Regions from separate parts of the Homo sapiens genome. Here regions 1 and 3 are each reported to be linked to region 2. The links are microRNA targets in miRTarBase. Many come from high-throughput screens and were not tested one by one. Region 2 holds a microRNA gene; each other region holds the end of a gene's coding sequence.

What was found. Region 2 holds the annotated microRNA hsa-miR-3912-5p (AUGUCCAUAUUAUGGGUUAGU, at 2,133-2,153, shown strand). A microRNA usually pairs through its seed, bases 2 to 8, with sites in the 3' UTR of a target mRNA and lowers its output. Matches are read on the target gene's strand: a 7mer-m8 pairs with bases 2 to 8, a 7mer-A1 pairs with bases 2 to 7 and ends in A, and an 8mer does both.
Region 1: miRTarBase lists SHC3 as a target of hsa-miR-3912-5p. Seed matches in the 3' UTR shown: 8mer at 951-958.
Region 3: miRTarBase lists BSN as a target of hsa-miR-3912-5p. Seed matches in the 3' UTR shown: 7mer-A1 at 1,486-1,492.

Annotation. Positions count from the first base shown.
Region 1 is chr9:89,009,188-89,014,406 of GRCh38, forward strand. SHC3 (SHC adaptor protein 3) reads right to left here. Exons shown (of 12, transcript NM_016848.6): 12 at 1-4,388. The coding sequence ends at 4,260. Among named protein-coding and RNA genes, the nearest start is that of S1PR3, 20 kb to the left of the region's middle.
Region 2 is chr5:171,383,646-171,388,864 of GRCh38, reverse strand. MIR3912 (microRNA 3912) reads left to right here and starts at 2,105; the gene lies at 2,105-2,209. It overlaps NPM1 (nucleophosmin 1), which reads right to left and starts at 1,016. Exons shown (of 11, transcript NM_002520.7): 1 at 859-1,016. The coding sequence starts at 916. RefSeq lists silencers at 296-355, 676-735.
Region 3 is chr3:49,663,978-49,669,196 of GRCh38, reverse strand. BSN (bassoon presynaptic cytomatrix protein) reads right to left here. Exons shown (of 12, transcript NM_003458.4): 9 at 4,643-4,774; 10 at 4,344-4,398; 11 at 3,879-3,968; 12 at 1-1,607. The coding sequence ends at 4,358. Among named protein-coding and RNA genes, the nearest start is that of APEH, 7.8 kb to the left of the region's middle. RefSeq lists an enhancer at 2,307-2,601 and a silencer at 2,307-2,601.

The sequences.
Region 1 (5,219 bases), not on the chromosome of region 2:
GGGCTGTCTTACCAAGCTCCCTTCCCTGTGATCCTGTGTGGAGCTGACAGTTCTAGGTTGGCACTATGTCCAGGAGTGGGTTTGTCCTCTTCATCTTTCTTAGAGCCAGCTTTGAAAGTTCCATGGGAGAACCTGAGTATTACTCTGAAACCCACTGCAAGGTCTGTCTGAGTCCTGCAATGACCTCTTTGCAATCTTTCCACAATCTTCCCACTCACTCCCAATCCTACTGTCACCGTCCACAGAAAGGGATTTATGGACAGCACACAAAGTTGGGCCAGCGAGAGAGAACCAATGGGCACGCTGGGAATGCACAATTTTAGAAAATCATTGCGCTTATATGTTTCATATATTTGTCAATCCCCAGCACGCCCTCAAGCTGGGAACATGTATAGCCCTGCAGTGTAGAGCACGCCAAGGCTCAGAGAAATCCAGCAACCCGCCTGAGTCCACGCCGTTCTGGGTGTGCCAGGGTGGAGGCTGGATGGAGGTATCTACTCGTGGCCCGCATTGCCTCTGCCCTGGAAAGGCCTATAGTCCGAGGCTTCTGCCCAGCTCAGCCCAACAGAAAAGAAATGTGTGACTGCCTTCAGGTAGCAGCCAGTTTGGAGGAAATGAGGACCCAGACGTCCATCTTCAAGCATTGCTTATAGAAAGAAGCTACCCAAGTGTCGGACGCTACTGAAAAGGAAAGCTTTATTTTGGGAGCTGGGGGCCACCTTCAGAATCCCAGCACCAGACATGGAGGTTGGGCTGGACACACATGTCCACTGTTCCCCTGGCACATGGGCCCTTTAGGGTCCACCCTTCCCTAGGCCTGTCCTTCCTTTTAAGTTAGGACTTTACCTACACACACGGCTTGTCATTTCCCGTCTTTATTAGAAATTACCCACAACTTCCTCCACCTCCAGGAGGCCCTAAAGAAGGCCATATATGGCCCAATCAGGCCTTTGTCCATTATCCCAACATCATAGATGGCCTGACAAAATAGCTGCTCGCTCATCAAGGCTGAGCGGACGCCCAGTCTTTGGGTGCTTCAAATATAAAAAACAGCAACAGTGGTGTCTTAAGCACAGGATTAAAGATTGAGTCATTTGACTGCGGTGTTTTTCACCTCCCCACCCGATTCTCCGGTTAGCTACTCAGAGGCAGCCTTGGAGGTCAAGAATCAAAGCTGACTTAAACCACAATGAGCACCCCCATGAGAGGCCCAGCCGGCCTCCGTGGGACAGAGATGTCATTTGAAGCACAGCTGATTCATTCGTGGGGTTAGGGGAGGTGGGTGGGGGTCTCTAGGGCCACTCGGTAAGGGCAGAGGGGCCGTTTTAGGACTGCTGGCCCCCACCTTGTACTCCCAGAAGACATAGAGTTTGGGGTTAAGTGTTGGGGGTGCCCATTGGAGGGACAGCAGGGCCCAGGTGCACTCTGCAGGACCAGGGTGGCCCAGCACAGCAGCAGCGACTGTGCCCTGGAAGCCTGAGGCCCTGGAACGCAAGGCCTAATGCCATTCCCGCTGCGTTCATTGTTCAGCTTCCCTGCCCTGCCCAGGCAGAGATGTGGCCTGAGAAAGTGTGGGGAAGAGGGGCCCAGGCTAGACAGGGAGGAGCCTCCATTGCTTTTGCCTTGGAATCCTGAGCTCAAAGCACAGGCTGGCACACAGCAGGGCTCACGAAATGCTGAGTGAGCAGAAGAGCTCTGCAGCCAGATGACAACATGGCCTCCAGGAAGGTGTGGCACCAGCCCCAGCCTCACTTTCCCCATGTGTCTGTGAGGCTCACAGGAATGGCCCACCACACAGTGCTGGAGGGAAGAGTTGGGATAACTAATGTGTGCTCTAACCCACTTTACAAATGGGAGGGAACAAAGATTAGAAAATCGCTGCCATCTGCTATGTCTGAAGCCTGCTCACTTCACTGGCACTATTCTAGTGTAACCAATATATAATCTGAGCTTAAAAATGTATATTTTGAATTAATATTAAAAAGAAAAAATTCGACTCCAATACTTTAAATTTTCTAAATTGATTCTCATGCAAAAAATATATATATTTTCTATCACCATCGAACTAGACACTGACTTCACAGCAAGAGCTACTAAAGCTGCAGGTTACCATTCAAGTCCCCCCAAGAGAAAAATAAAGTAAATCAAATGTTACAGCATTCACAGCTCCTAACTTGCATTTCCTACTTTGCTATTGTCCCTGAATGTTATAATAGCATTTTGACCTTTCACAAGTGGGGAATGCATGAATGTAGAAAGAAGGTCATTTCGCACATTTTTCTATGTGGTGCACATTCATGCACAGGTGGGTCAGAGCTGTGTGTGTCTCTCCAGGGCTCCCAGCCTCCCAGAGGACAGATGTGCAGGGCAGCTCTCAGAGCACCCAAGTCTATGCTGTCTTGGGGCAGGAGCCTGATGCAGCTGCTGCCAGCAACCCCGTGGAGCCGTCTGCTTCTGGATCACTAAGCAGAGTATCCACATGATGCCTGAAGCCAAAACCATTTCAGAAAACAGCAGTGCAGTCTACAGTAGTGTCAGACTCTCCAGAGTTTCAATCCACTGCAGAACATTCTAGAACACTGACTTCACTGTCATCTCAAATTCACTGGACCCTCAAAGGCAAAGACTCCCTAGAAGGCCATGTATGAAGGCTGGGGCCTGCCCTGACTCATCCTCACTGGTTAGCTCTAACCTGTCCTTCCATCTGGCCACACGCACACCCCAAGGCAGAAATGGGGCTCATACCATTGGCATTAGAACTTAGCAGTATTATTATCTGCCAGATTTTTCAGTCTCCTCATAACTCTCCTTACAGGATCAGATTTATCACTATCCAACTCTAAGCGTGTTTAGTGTGTCTTTCTGTTCTGCTGACCCATACCCTACAGGGTGCTGTACCCTGTGGGGTCTCACCAGAACAAGAGCCACGCTGCCAGCAAGCAAATGGATCCATCTATTCTTTAAAGGGCATCTGTGAAAATCACAGGGCAATCTCAGCCCAGATAGTATTTGAAAGGTATAAACATTGCCAGCTTTCTAACACCAAATGACTCCTCAGGAAATGACAGTATTTTACCTGGAAGAAAGGGAGTCAAGACAAAGAGTGGGGGCAGGCACATGCTCTTCCCTGCAGCAACGGAGAAACCTTGTTGTTGGGACAGCAGGCCTTTCCCCCATCCCTCATGCCAGAGGCAGTACCTCAAATGGATTCCAGTGACTCCTGGGTTTCTGGCACATGCAGCCCCAGAAGCCTCAATACCTGAGTCTTCGGGACTGAGCTCTGGGATGGGTGCCTGCTCTTGCTGTCACACAGGCTTCTCCCCTATTGTATAAGGCGGGCGGGGGACTTTACTAGCAATTACCATAAGCAGCCTGTAGTCAACCGCTGACTAGAGGGAGACACAAACCAGGAATTTGCCCCGACCACCCTTCTACAAATACCCATTTTAGCATTAGATACATGAGAACAGGGAAGCACTTGTCAATCAAAATCTTGGTTGGTGAAGCTTATTTTGTGCCATTTTGGCATGAAATGAATTCCCAAGTACTCCTCGCACAACTGGGGTCAAGGGTGGCGGGGCCCTGTGCTCAGCAGGACCCGGAGAAGCTGGAGTGCCACCTGTTCTTTAGTGAAGCTGCAGCGAGTTGTGTAGACACCCCAGGCACGTGGAGTGCAGTGCAGGGAGCACAGGAGGTGTCCCAGGGAGGCCAAGGGAGGATGCCCGCTCCCACCAGCAAGCACAGCCATGCCTCAGAACCAGTATCTCATAGCTTTCAGTGCAGGGCTAGGCATGCTCTGAGCAGCATGCCTTGCGATTCCCTCACAATTCTGTGTTTCTATTCCCCTCCAGTTGTGCTTATTAGGTAAAACTGCAGGCTACACCTTCCTAGTGGCATTTCCCGGTGGGATGGGTCAGTTGAATTAAATTTTTGCCTGGACAACTACAGTTAAACTTATTTTTTTTTTTCATTAAAAACATACAGCACAGAACATTAGTCTTACATCTTTCTTAGTCTTAAAAAATATAAATATAGAGGGATAATTTGTACAGGATGTATAGGTATGTACACCTTTAATATGCATATGAGAAATTCAGAACCAAGTTTATGAAACTTGACCTTAAAGGAAGCCTTCCTTTTGAAGCTTTTGAAGAAGGCTCTGAGCCACAGGCAGCTGTCCCAGTTCCAGCAGCCCCGATTCTAGTCCACTCCAGGTCCTCCTGACCTGGTGCGCAGTGCTGGGAGCAGTGCTGGCCAGGTCACTGCTTCCTCTCCACTGGCTGCTGGAGACACAGCTCACTCCCTGCAGAGACAATGGGCAGGCTGCTTTCTAGGTGGTGGTTGATGAGGTGGCTGATACTGTCAAAGACTCTGTCCTTTGTCCGGATCTATGAATGAAGCAAAGGAAAGGTTAAGCACATCTCACAGGCAGCAAAAAGAGAAAATGGTTTGCTCAGAATCAGCCAGACCATCTGAACTGGCCCAGAAGGAAAGGAGGGGGGGACAAGGGGCTTCCACCACTTTAGAGATGCTGTCTGCAAAGAGCAATGGCCAATCCATTTCATTGGTTGGGCTCACCTCCAAACTACCTGAAGACCTTTCAGTAACCATAAGCCCAGGCCCCTAGGACTCAGTTCTGGAATGTCCCAGCCCACTGTCCTATAGGCATGGCCTCCTCCACCTTCACCAACCAAGGTCACCTCACCTGTCTCTCCTGCTCCCTCCCTGGCCCTCTCAGGATAGCCCTGAACTGGGCTCTGCAGGCTCCCATGACCCTCCCACCTCTAGGCCTTTGCATGGACATCTCCCGGCCCAGAATTAGTGTCTTCCACCTGAGCCTGGCCCTACCTCAATGCCAGCACCTCCAGGCAGCCTTCCTTCCTCTCCAGACATCCTGGGCACCCACCAGGGGCAAGCCTCACAGTTCCCCAGAGGAGCTCCTGTTGCCCCTGCAGTCCCCCACTGGAGAGTGAGCCAGGCTGGGTCAGAGGTACAGGCTCCGTGTTCCTGGGCTTTCAATTCTACAGCCTGCCCATAAACTTTTAATGCCATGTCAGGGGAGAGGAGGTTGAACACTCTGCCCTGCTTGCTGGCCTGCACTGTGGTCCCTGGGGTCCATCAGCCGCCTCCACTCTGAGCCGGCACATTCACAGATATCACTCACACTTGAAAAAGGTGGAGTGGGGCCTGTCAGGAGCAATTTTTCGAGGAGGTCTGGA
Region 2 (5,219 bases):
TTCGTTAAGTGAGTTTATCTCTGGGCACCAGTATCCTCATCTGCAAAGTGGGGCTAGCTCCACCTACCGCAGTGAGACAGAAAAGGGGCTCAAAAAAATGAGAGCTGCCATCACAGTACATGCTGTAAGCACTGAACAAAGACCTCCAGAACCCTAGTGCTACCAGCCTCTTAACATTTCCCACTTCAACAGAGCCACAGCATCCCTGGCTCACGAGTGGCAACACGCCGGTGAGTCCCGGATGTAGCGCCCACACCCCCCTCCCTCCCCCAACCACGTGGCAACCACGTGCTCCCAGCGGTTGCGGCCTCCTCACGCCGCGCCGCGCCTCCCCACCCCCAGTAACTGGCCGAAGCACGCGAGGTAAGTCTACGTCCGGCAGCTCCAGGCTCTGAGGCCAGAATAACGCCAGGCTGTGCATCTACCCGCTCCAACAAGCAGGCCCATGCTTCCCGGTGAACCCAGCCTCCAGGACCACCAACCCGGGGCCTGGCATCAGAAGCCTATGAACCACCGCCGTTAGAAAATAAACCACGCCTGGAGCTCCGCCACGTATCCCCGGCAAAGGCCGAACTTCCAGGCGGCCGGTTCCACTTTACCTCAGGCCCCGGGCCTCGGACCGCTCACGCCCCAGACGCTTCAGGCCGCTCGTCTCCTCCCCCTTCACGCCACCGGCTCCCCCCGCGGCTCCAATCCCTCCAGGTCCAGGGCTCAGGCAGCTCTTCCCACCCGCTCAGGCCTCCCGTCGGTCTGGCGGTCTCCACCAGACCCGGTTGCAGCCGGATTCCCGCCCCTCACCCCCACCCTCACCGCCACCAGGCCCCGCTCGGCCTCGCTCCAGCTCCCCCCAGCAGTTACCGAAAAGATAGTTCTGGGGCCTCAGGGGGCTCATGTCCATGTCCATCGAATCTTCCATCGGGTGGCGGCACGCACTTAGGTAGGAGAGAAGGCGGACGGAGATAAAAGAACGCTGCTCCAGAGAACAACCGCGCAGGACGGAATCACACCAGGGAAAGGACGCAGGCTCCCCGCGCTTATATATAGACCCTGAAGATCTCGCGAGCGCTTCCCAAGTCCCGCCTCCGCGCGCGTGCTCCGAAGCCCTCCCACCCCCGTACCGTAGCCGTCCTGCGCAAGCGCTTTTCAACCCCACTCCTTTCTACCTCGCCCCCACCTCCTTCCAGGTACTCCGCGGGCTCCCACCGAGCACGCGCACTCGTACACTGGCCCCACCCCTCCGCTGCTGTCGCCTGTGCGCACGCGTGCTTTCCAGTCGTAACGCGCACTCCCCACCTCCAACCCTTCCACGTCCTCTCCCGCTCAAGCGCGCCGGCCTCCCGCCAAGAGTCTGCGCAGCCCACCCTGCAAAATGGCGTCGGCAGCCCTTAGCTGTGTAAGATATGGCGGGTTAGCCGGCTGCGAATGAGCCAGAGAGCACCTCGATTCACCTTTCCCCATCCCCTAGTGCCCTGCAAGCCTCCAAACAGGCGTAATCACTTCAGGAATTTTTTACTTGCCTGAAGGCTTCGGATCGCAGTTAATCGTTACCCCAAAGTTCAGGTGCCAGAGAGAGTGAATTGCGGCTTATTCTTTGTTAGGAAGGAAAGATGTAGTTACCGGCCAGACTTACGGAACTTTGTTTTTCAGCTCTGTCCTTCCTGAGAAAACATCTCCAAAGTCCTTATCTTTACGTAACTTGGGGGCCAAAAGGGGACTGAATCAGTCTCCAAATTAGCAAGGACATCGCCCTAAGAGAGCTCGGAGGGTGGGCCGACTCTGACTTCTTGCCGCTCTTAATCTTTAACATTCCTCCTGAAAGAAAGCGGGTGACTTGTAAGAACTACAGAAGCCTTAATTCGAATATTTGGGAGCGAGCATGGGAATTAACGTTTTAAGCTACACCTTGACAAACTCCGAGGCACCCCAGCACCCCGCGGGCATTGGGGCGTTCTGAAGACCCGTAATCTTTTTTTTTTAAGCCTCAACATATCAAACAAATTTAAGAAGTGAGGAATACAAATGATAGCCTCAGAAAGGAAGACACCCCCACCCCAAGGCATTATTTCTTACAGGAAAATTATAGAGACGATTTCAGTGTCTATCAAGAGAGGAATGAACAGTTAAATTATAACATGTCCATATTATGGGTTAGTTGTGGACACATACTAACGCATAATATGGACATGTTATAATTTAACTGTTCCTTTCTGAGAGCTCCTGTGTCACATAAAGCTTTGAGTCACTTAAATTTGTTATGCCTTTTTTTGTGTGTGTGTGGAGACAGAGTCTCGCTGTGTTGTCCAGGCTGGAGTGCAGTGGCGTGATCTCCGCTGGATGCAACCTCCGCCTCCCGGGCTCCCGAGTAGCGAGGACTACAGGTGCATGCCACCACGCCCGACTAATTTTTGTATTTTAGGAGGGATGGGGTTTCGCTGTGTTCTCCAGGCTGGGCTCAAACTCCTGACCTCGGGTGATCCGCCTGTCTCTGCCTTCCAAAGTGCTGGGATTTCAGGCGTGAGCCACCGCACCCAGCCAGCATTTTTTTTTTTTTTAAACGGGGTCTCGCTCTCTTGCCCAGGCTGCAGTGCAGTGGCAAGATCTCTGACTCACGAGTTCTGCCTCTTGAGTTCCAGCAATTCTCGTGCCTCAGCCTCCCAAGTAGCTGGGATTACAGGTGCCTGCCACCGCGTCCAGCTAATTGTTGTATATTTAGTAGAAACAGGGTTTCGCCATGTTGGCCTCCCAAAGTGCTGGGATTACAGGCGTGAGTCACCACACCCGGCCACTGTTTTATTTTTTATTTTAATTTTTTTTTTTTTTGAAACCGAAGTCCCGCTCTGTCATACAGGCTGGAGTGCAGTGTTATGATCTTGGCTCACTGTGACCTTTGCCTCCTGGGTTCAAGTGATTGTCCTGCCTCAGCCTCCCAAGTAGCTGGGATTACAGGCGCCCCCCACCACGCCTAGCTAATTTTTGTATTTTTAGTAGAGATGGGGTTTCACCATGTTGGCCAGGCTGGACTCGAACTCCTGACCTGAAGTGATCCACCCGCCTCAGCCTCTCAAAGTGCTGGACTTACATGCGTGAGCCATGGCGCCCGGCCTTATCTGAGACTTTAAAAAAAAACAATCCAGCAAAAGGGGAGGAGAAAGGAGAGTGGGAAGGTATATATGAAATAAGATTGACTACATGATGATAATTGTTAAAACTGGGTGATGGGTATATGGTTGTTCATCATAGGATTCCTTCTATTTTTGTTCTTGTTTGAAAATTTCCATGATAAAATGTGTTAAAAAATGAAGATTAAAATAAAACTTGTATTTAAAAAATGGTATATCAGTTTATCCTGTGGAATACTGTGCAACTTCTAAAAAGAATACAGTGGTCCCCTATATATTATATCCTGGAAAGATAGCTATGCCACATGAAGTAAAAAAGCAAAGTTGGAGAACAATATATATATAATACGACCCTGCTTACGTAAACAGTGAATGCCAGGTGCAATGGCTCATGCCTGTAATCCCAGCACTTTGGGAGGCTGAAGCAGGAGGGGTTGGAGTTGAAGACCAGCCTGGGCAACATAGTGAGACCCTGTTTCTACAAACAAACAGAAAAAATTAGCCGGGTGTGGTAGCACATGCCTGTAGTTCCACCTACTCAGGAGGCTGAGGTAGGTGGGAAGATCTTAAGCCTGGAAAGTCAAGGCTGCTGTGAGTCATGTTCACACCACTACTCTCTAGCCTGGGTGACAGAGTGAGAGCCTGTCTCTAAAAAAACCAACCAACCAACCAAAAAAAAGAAAAAAGAAAAGAAGCATTTATATGTACTGTATATATATTTGTAAGTGCCTGCTCTACTTACTGTGCAAATCCATTTCTTAGAATACTCTACAAAACTACTTTCAGACATTAATAATTATATAGGTACAAAGATATTTACTAAAGCTGTCTCTCCCTACTTGGAAAGCTGAGGCAGGAAAATCACTTGAACCCAGGAAATGGAGGTTGCAGTGAGCTGAGATTGAGCCAGTGCACTCCAGCCTGGGTGACAGAGTGAGACTCCATCTCAAAATAGATATATTTATTTCTAATAGTATGAATTACCCAGTTCAAATACCCCTGTCTCTTACAGTTGATTTGCTTGAATAAGGATCAAAACAAGGTCTACACATTACCTTGAGTCATGTTGTCATTTAACATGTTCCTGGCCGGGTGTGGTGACTCACGCCTGTAATCCCAGCACTTTGGGAAGCCGAGGAGGGCGCATCACCTGAGGTCGGGAGTTCAACACCAACCTGACCAACATGGAGAAATCCCGTCTCTACTAAAAATACAAAATTAGCCAGGCGTGGTGGCATGCCTGTAATCTCAGTCTGTAATCTTCTGTAAAGGAGAATGTTTCTTGATCAATTATTTGATTACCCTAAAAAATCGTTTTCGGCCAGGTGCAGTGGATCACACCTGTAATCCCAGCATTTTGGGAGGCCAAGGCAGGTGGATCACCTGAGGTCAGGAGTTTGAAAACAGTCTGACCAACATGATGAAACCCTGTTTCTACTAAATTAAAAAAAAAAAATAGCTGAGTGTGGTGGCATATGTCTGTAATTCCAGCTACTTGGGAGGCTGAGGCAGGAGAATTGCTTGAACCTGGGAGGCGGAGGTTGCATTGAGCCAAGATTGCACCATTGCCCTCCAGCCTGGGCAACAAAAGTGAAAACTCCGTCTCAAAAAATAATAATAATAATTTTCTTTCTAAGATGGGGTCTCACTCTGTCACCCAGCCTGGAGTGCAGTGGGGTGATCTCGGCTCACTTCCGCCTCCCAGGTTCAAGTGATCCTCCCATCTCAGCCTACTAAGTAGCTGGGACTGCAGGCAAAGGCCACTATGCCCAGCTAATTTTTTGTATTTTTGGTAGAGACGATTTCACCATGTTGCTCAGGCTGGTCTTGAACTCCTGAGCTCAAGCAACCCACCCACCTCAGCCTCCCCAAGTGCTGGGATTACAGGTGTGAGCCACCATGCCTGGCCAAAAATAATTTGTACCACCCTGGGCAACAGGGAGACCCCATCTCTACAAAAAATTTTAAAATTCGTTGAGTGTGGTGGCTCACACATATGGTCCCTGCTACTCAGGAAGCTGAGGTGGGAGGATCACTTGAGACAGGGAGGTCGAGGCTGTGGTAAACCGTGATCAAGCCACTGCACTCCAGCTTGGGCAA
Region 3 (5,219 bases), not on the chromosome of region 2:
GTCAGCTAGAAGTGCTCCTGAAGGAGAGGTTCTGAGGCAAAAAGAACTCCAAGCAAGAGGGTCAAGCATTTAAAATGGATGAAATCGTGCAAAGAGGCTGCGAGCTGTGCATGCTCCACTGCAGGACAGGCGGTGACTCACCTGGCAGCAGCGAGTCCTGCCACAGGTCAAACATGCCACAGACTGAGAATTTCACACACACAATGGGAGCAGGGGTGGGGTGGGGAGGGGTGGGGGTTTTATGAGTGTATCTATCCAGTTTCTCAATTGCATGTTTGCAATTAACTCCTTATACATAACATGGAATTTATTAAATATTAACAGTTGTCATTGAGGGTTTATATTTCATTGCATAGAACGTTAGAGATGAGACTTGTGGCTGTGCCCCAGATGAAAGGAGGCCCCCAAGGGAAGAGCCCTGGGGAGGAATGCTGCCCAGTCCACCGGATGGATAGACAGTGCCACATTCCCCCGCACAGGGCTCTGGGCCTTTCCCTTGGCTGGCAGAAGTCCTGGCCCCTCTGCTCTGAGTACACCCACTGGTGATGGCTTAAGAACGACTGGAATTGCACAGTAAACAGAGGCGGGCTGGGAGGCCTCCCCAGACCTCGCCCTGGGGTTGTGCTCTTGGTGGCCTGCTGCCCCCTATTGCTTCTAAGTCAACATTCTCCCTGTGCTGAGCAGGGGCAGAGCAGAGAGGAAACCAAACCATCAGTCACAAGGTGGTGGTGGAGGGGGAGAGGCAAGGGAGTGAGCCAAGAGAAGAGAGAAAGGGGGAGAGAGAAACAAAAGAAAAATGTTTATGAGGTATACACGTAAATCAAACTGGAATGATTAAGGCTGTTCTTGAAATCAAAAGAAATCCCCAGGTGTACAGACGAGGAGCCGGCTGGTTGAGACAATGGCGGTGCCGCTGGGATGCTCACGATGGCTAGGGGGATGGCTTTGAGATGGTGGCAGTGTGCTAGCACGCTGCCACCCACGGGCTGGGAGAAGCCTCAGCCGGCGCCCACGCTGCTTTTCGGTGCTATGGCCTCTTATTTCAGCGATGAGACAGTGTTAGGTCCTAATGTTTGTAAAGTTCTCCCAACCCCTGGCCACATGGAGGTCTGCTCCGATGTCACCCAGAGGGCATGTGACGGGCAGGGCCCTGTGCCACAGAGGGATCCGGGCCAGCTGGAATGTGAAGGAAACGGAGCCCAGGGCCCCCAGCCCTCAGTCAAAGCCCCTCTCCAAGGCTGTGGAAAAACTTCTGGCATCTCGGAGGGAGGGCAGTGTGTGCCCAAACTCTGTGTATAACGCACGGGAAGCCTGGCCGGCCAGGCCGCAAAAAGGCGGCTGTGGGAAGTACGGCAAGACACCATGGTGGCAGGGTTTCTGGAGAGGGTTCTCCCTCCCAACAAGGGCTGTGCCTTGAAGGTGGTGCCCTGCAGAGAGCAGCATCTCTGGAAAGACAATCAAAGGTCCCCTGGCCAGTGGTCCGACTTGTCCAGCAGATGCTTCACCCAGGCAGCTGCTGTGAGAAAACATCACGTCCTCAACTGAGGCCTGCCTGCCACGTCCCACCTGGTGAGTCTTTGGGCCAAGGGTTTGCCAGATTGTAGATGCTTGAAAGAGAAAAGGAGGGAGGGAGGAAGGAAAGAAGAAAAGAAAGGATTCTGTCAAGAATTGTAGATAGCTGCTTCTCACCCTCACATTCCTCTCAGCCATCTGCCTGTGCTAGCGGCCACCTCCTCACCCACGGGGTGCCATGCCACTCAGGCTTGGGGAGATGGGTGCTTGGGCAGGTTGGAGGTCACAGAGAGGACAGCAAGAAAGAAGAATCAGGTCAGCCAGGAAGGGACACTTCTTTTAATGTAACAAAAGTTCCTTTTTTTTTTTTTTTTTTGGCTTAAGAGTGATGGAGAAGGGATTTGGTTTGAAATGGCAAACCTCTCCAAGCCCATCTCTGAAATTGCCGTAAAGAATTTCAGGAGAGGGATACTCACGGCAGCACTGTCCACTTGACCCAATCATTAGCCGAATGCTAGAACTCAAGGGAGATTTCTTTAACTATAAAGTCAGTGGTCTCAGTGGCCCAACCACACCATGTGGCAGGACGCAGAACAAAGCTGTGTCTGTGCTTCCTTTCCCTGCTCAGGAGCCATACCCTGGCCCCAAACCCAAGGTAGGTACTGTCATGAATCCAGGCCATGGGCTGTCCCTCCTTCCCCCACTTTCAGCACCACTTGTGATTTCACATCTGTTCCAGGGCAACTCCAAGGAAACATCAGCTGAGCGGGAAGCCGCAGGAAGCCCGCTGTGGGAGGGTGAAGGCAGGAAGAACGCTAAGGGCTGCACTATGGCTACTGTAATTAGAATAAATTCCAGGCTCCTTACTTGGCCTGCACAACCCACCCCAGCTGGCTCCCACCCCCTTGGACTTTACCCCTGACCACCTCTCCCCTCCACTGTGGCCCTGGCTATACTGGCCTTTGCCCTGTCCCTGGTCCCATCCCAGCATCCGATCATCCGTCAGTGCTGTTCCCTCCCCTTTTTTCATCCCACCGCAGTCGTCCTCCTCCCTCAAGCTTCCCTCACATATCTTCTGCTCTGAGCACTTTGTCTAGAGCAGACCCCACTGCTTCCATAGCTCTGCTTCTCTGGCTTTATAACACTCATCACTTTCAGAAAGTACCTTTTTAATTGAATTTTATTTTTAAACTTATTTATTCTCTATCTCCTTTAATGGATTGTCAGCTTCAGAGGGCAGGGACTTGGTTTTGTTCTCTGCCATATCCCCAGATCCTGGAAGAGTGCCTGGCACATACCTGGGGCTTGACAAACATTTGTTGAATAAATGGACGGAAGCCTGGGCCTTTCCAGGGCCCCACTGCTTTTCCAGAGAAAGGTAGCCTGTGAGGTATCACACCTAGCTCCTTCCCTCCCACAACCAGTGCTGGCCCGGGCCCAGCATCTGCCAGCCCCAGGGCTCCCTTGAAGTGACCTGCTCACTGACCGCCAGGCCCCGCCATGGATAACACATACATGCTTGTGCACCGTGAGAAGCACCCTGAAGGGGCAAGGAGGGAGAAGAGGAGGGTCCGAGGGCTATGGGATGATGGTCAGTGGTCCTGGCTGTGCACAGAGCTGTACCAACAGCCAGGTGATTCTCCTCCCACCCAGGATGATGCACTTCCTCCTCCTCCCACAGAGGCAGGGCCAAGGCCAGGGCCAGGGCCAGGGCCAGGACAGGCTCCAGGAAGTGGTGTCCCAACCTGCCTTGGCCACTGCAGCCCAGACAGGGTGAGGGCTCCCATCCTGAGGCCCTTCTGCCCTCTCCCTGAGCTGACTTAGTCTGGGGCTGAGACTCCCTTTCCTCTATGTCCCTTCCTGTCTGCCTCTCTACTCCTTCCACTCTTCTATCCTGTGGGCCACAAGCTCAGCCTGTGAAGCCAGGAGTGTTTTGACTTCATTCCCAGAGCTGCAGATGTGACTCTGTGGGGTTTGGGGACTCTAATCTCTTCCAAGTGGCTGGAGCAAAGGCACCAGCAGCAGACATCAGGGAAGAAGCATGTTCCCCTACAGGTGCCACAGACTACCAGGTCCTTCAGGATGACTTTGAACTCAGTGCCCAGCACATAGACTTCAAGTTGTGAGGTGCAGTTAGCCGTGCTGGGCTCTTCTCCAAGGGTGCCACCTGACTTGTCTGGCACCATCTCAGGCAGCTCTGTGGCCCCTGCCTCTGCGGGGTAGAGGGCTGCTGGGCCCATCGCAGCTGAAGGAAACCCAACAGGCCCTTCCCAGTTCACACTTGTCAGAACTGGCTAGCTGTCATCAGCCAGGCCTTGGCCCTTCACCCCTCCTCCGGCCCATCTCACCCTGATCCTGACACTCACTGTTATACGCAGAGTCCAGAGCTGCGCCCAGGCCTCTGACTCCAGAGATTTTTCCACAGCAATGATACCTCTCTTCATTTCTTCAAGAGCCTGTGGAGCATTTAGAGGAGGGCTGGAGAGGAGTTGCATCCCTGGAGGCCTACCTACAACCCAGTGCCAGCCCAGTGCTGTGAGAGCCCTGCAGGGGATGGCAGATGGTTTGAAAGCCAGGGCACTGGCCCTGGCTTTGGCCCCTCCTTTGCTGGGGACCCCTACTGTGTTGGCCCCATGGTAGGGGCTCTGTGCACAGTGTCCCTCCTTTTTCTCCTCCCACATTCAGAGAAGGGAACATTGCAGCTCTGGGTACTGAACCAGCCGAAGACTGGACTCCTCCCAGAGGACCCCTTCGGACTTAGAGCCCCACCCCCACCCCCAGTGCCTCGGGCCTTTCCCAGAAGAGGCAAGGTACAGGCTGCTTGTACTCACCATGCTGGGCATGGTCACCAGAATGAGGAAAATTTTTTGCCAAAAGCAGAGACAGCTGTGACAAAGAAAGAGGAGAGAGCCATCAGGAAATTGGGCCAGACCCCTCCCAGTCAGGGCCACTTGGCATAGTGAAGGCAAGCTCAGCCCAAGGGGCAGAGATTGCCCGGAGAACAACTGGGCATCAGCAGGTGGGCTCTCTGGCTGGCCTCTGCCTGGGTGACTGAGTCTGGAATCATCTCACAGACCCAGCCTGTACCAGAGTAGCCACCCACCACAGACCAGTTGCAGGCAGTGCATACCTTCCGTCAGTTTGCCAGCTTGCTCGGCTGCCCCGCCAGGGAGGATCTTGGAGAACACGCTCTCCCCATCGGCACCTGGCTGGCCGGCGGGAGCCCCTGGGGTTCCTCCAGGCCTGGCTCCAGCCTTCACACCTAGGAGGAAAGAAATCGCCATAATGAGCTATGCACGGCCTGGCTCTTTAGGGTCTAAGAGGGCAAGTACCCACGAGAGAATCTGAACACAGGTACCCTATAAGGTGGGAAGGTGAGAAGGAGGCTAGGGAAATAAAGAGAAGAAGGTAAGAACAGGAAGACAAGGGGTGGGAGAAGGCAGAAAAAAGGAGGTTGAGGAAGGGAAAGAAGAAGAAAGGGAAAAAAAGGCAGAGAAGAGCAGGAAAGGGGAAGGAAGGAGGGAGCAAGAAGCCATGGTCCCCACCCTGTGCTCACCAGTGCCTTCCTGCTTCTCTGCCCAAAGCTGCTTGGGCCCTAAAGCCCCTGTGCTGGTGACCTCATTGGCTTATTCTAACCCCAGGCTTGTTTTCTGCTGGGGAGGTCTACAGCCCCTGGGGCACCTTCTCAGGGATTAGTGAGGGCATGC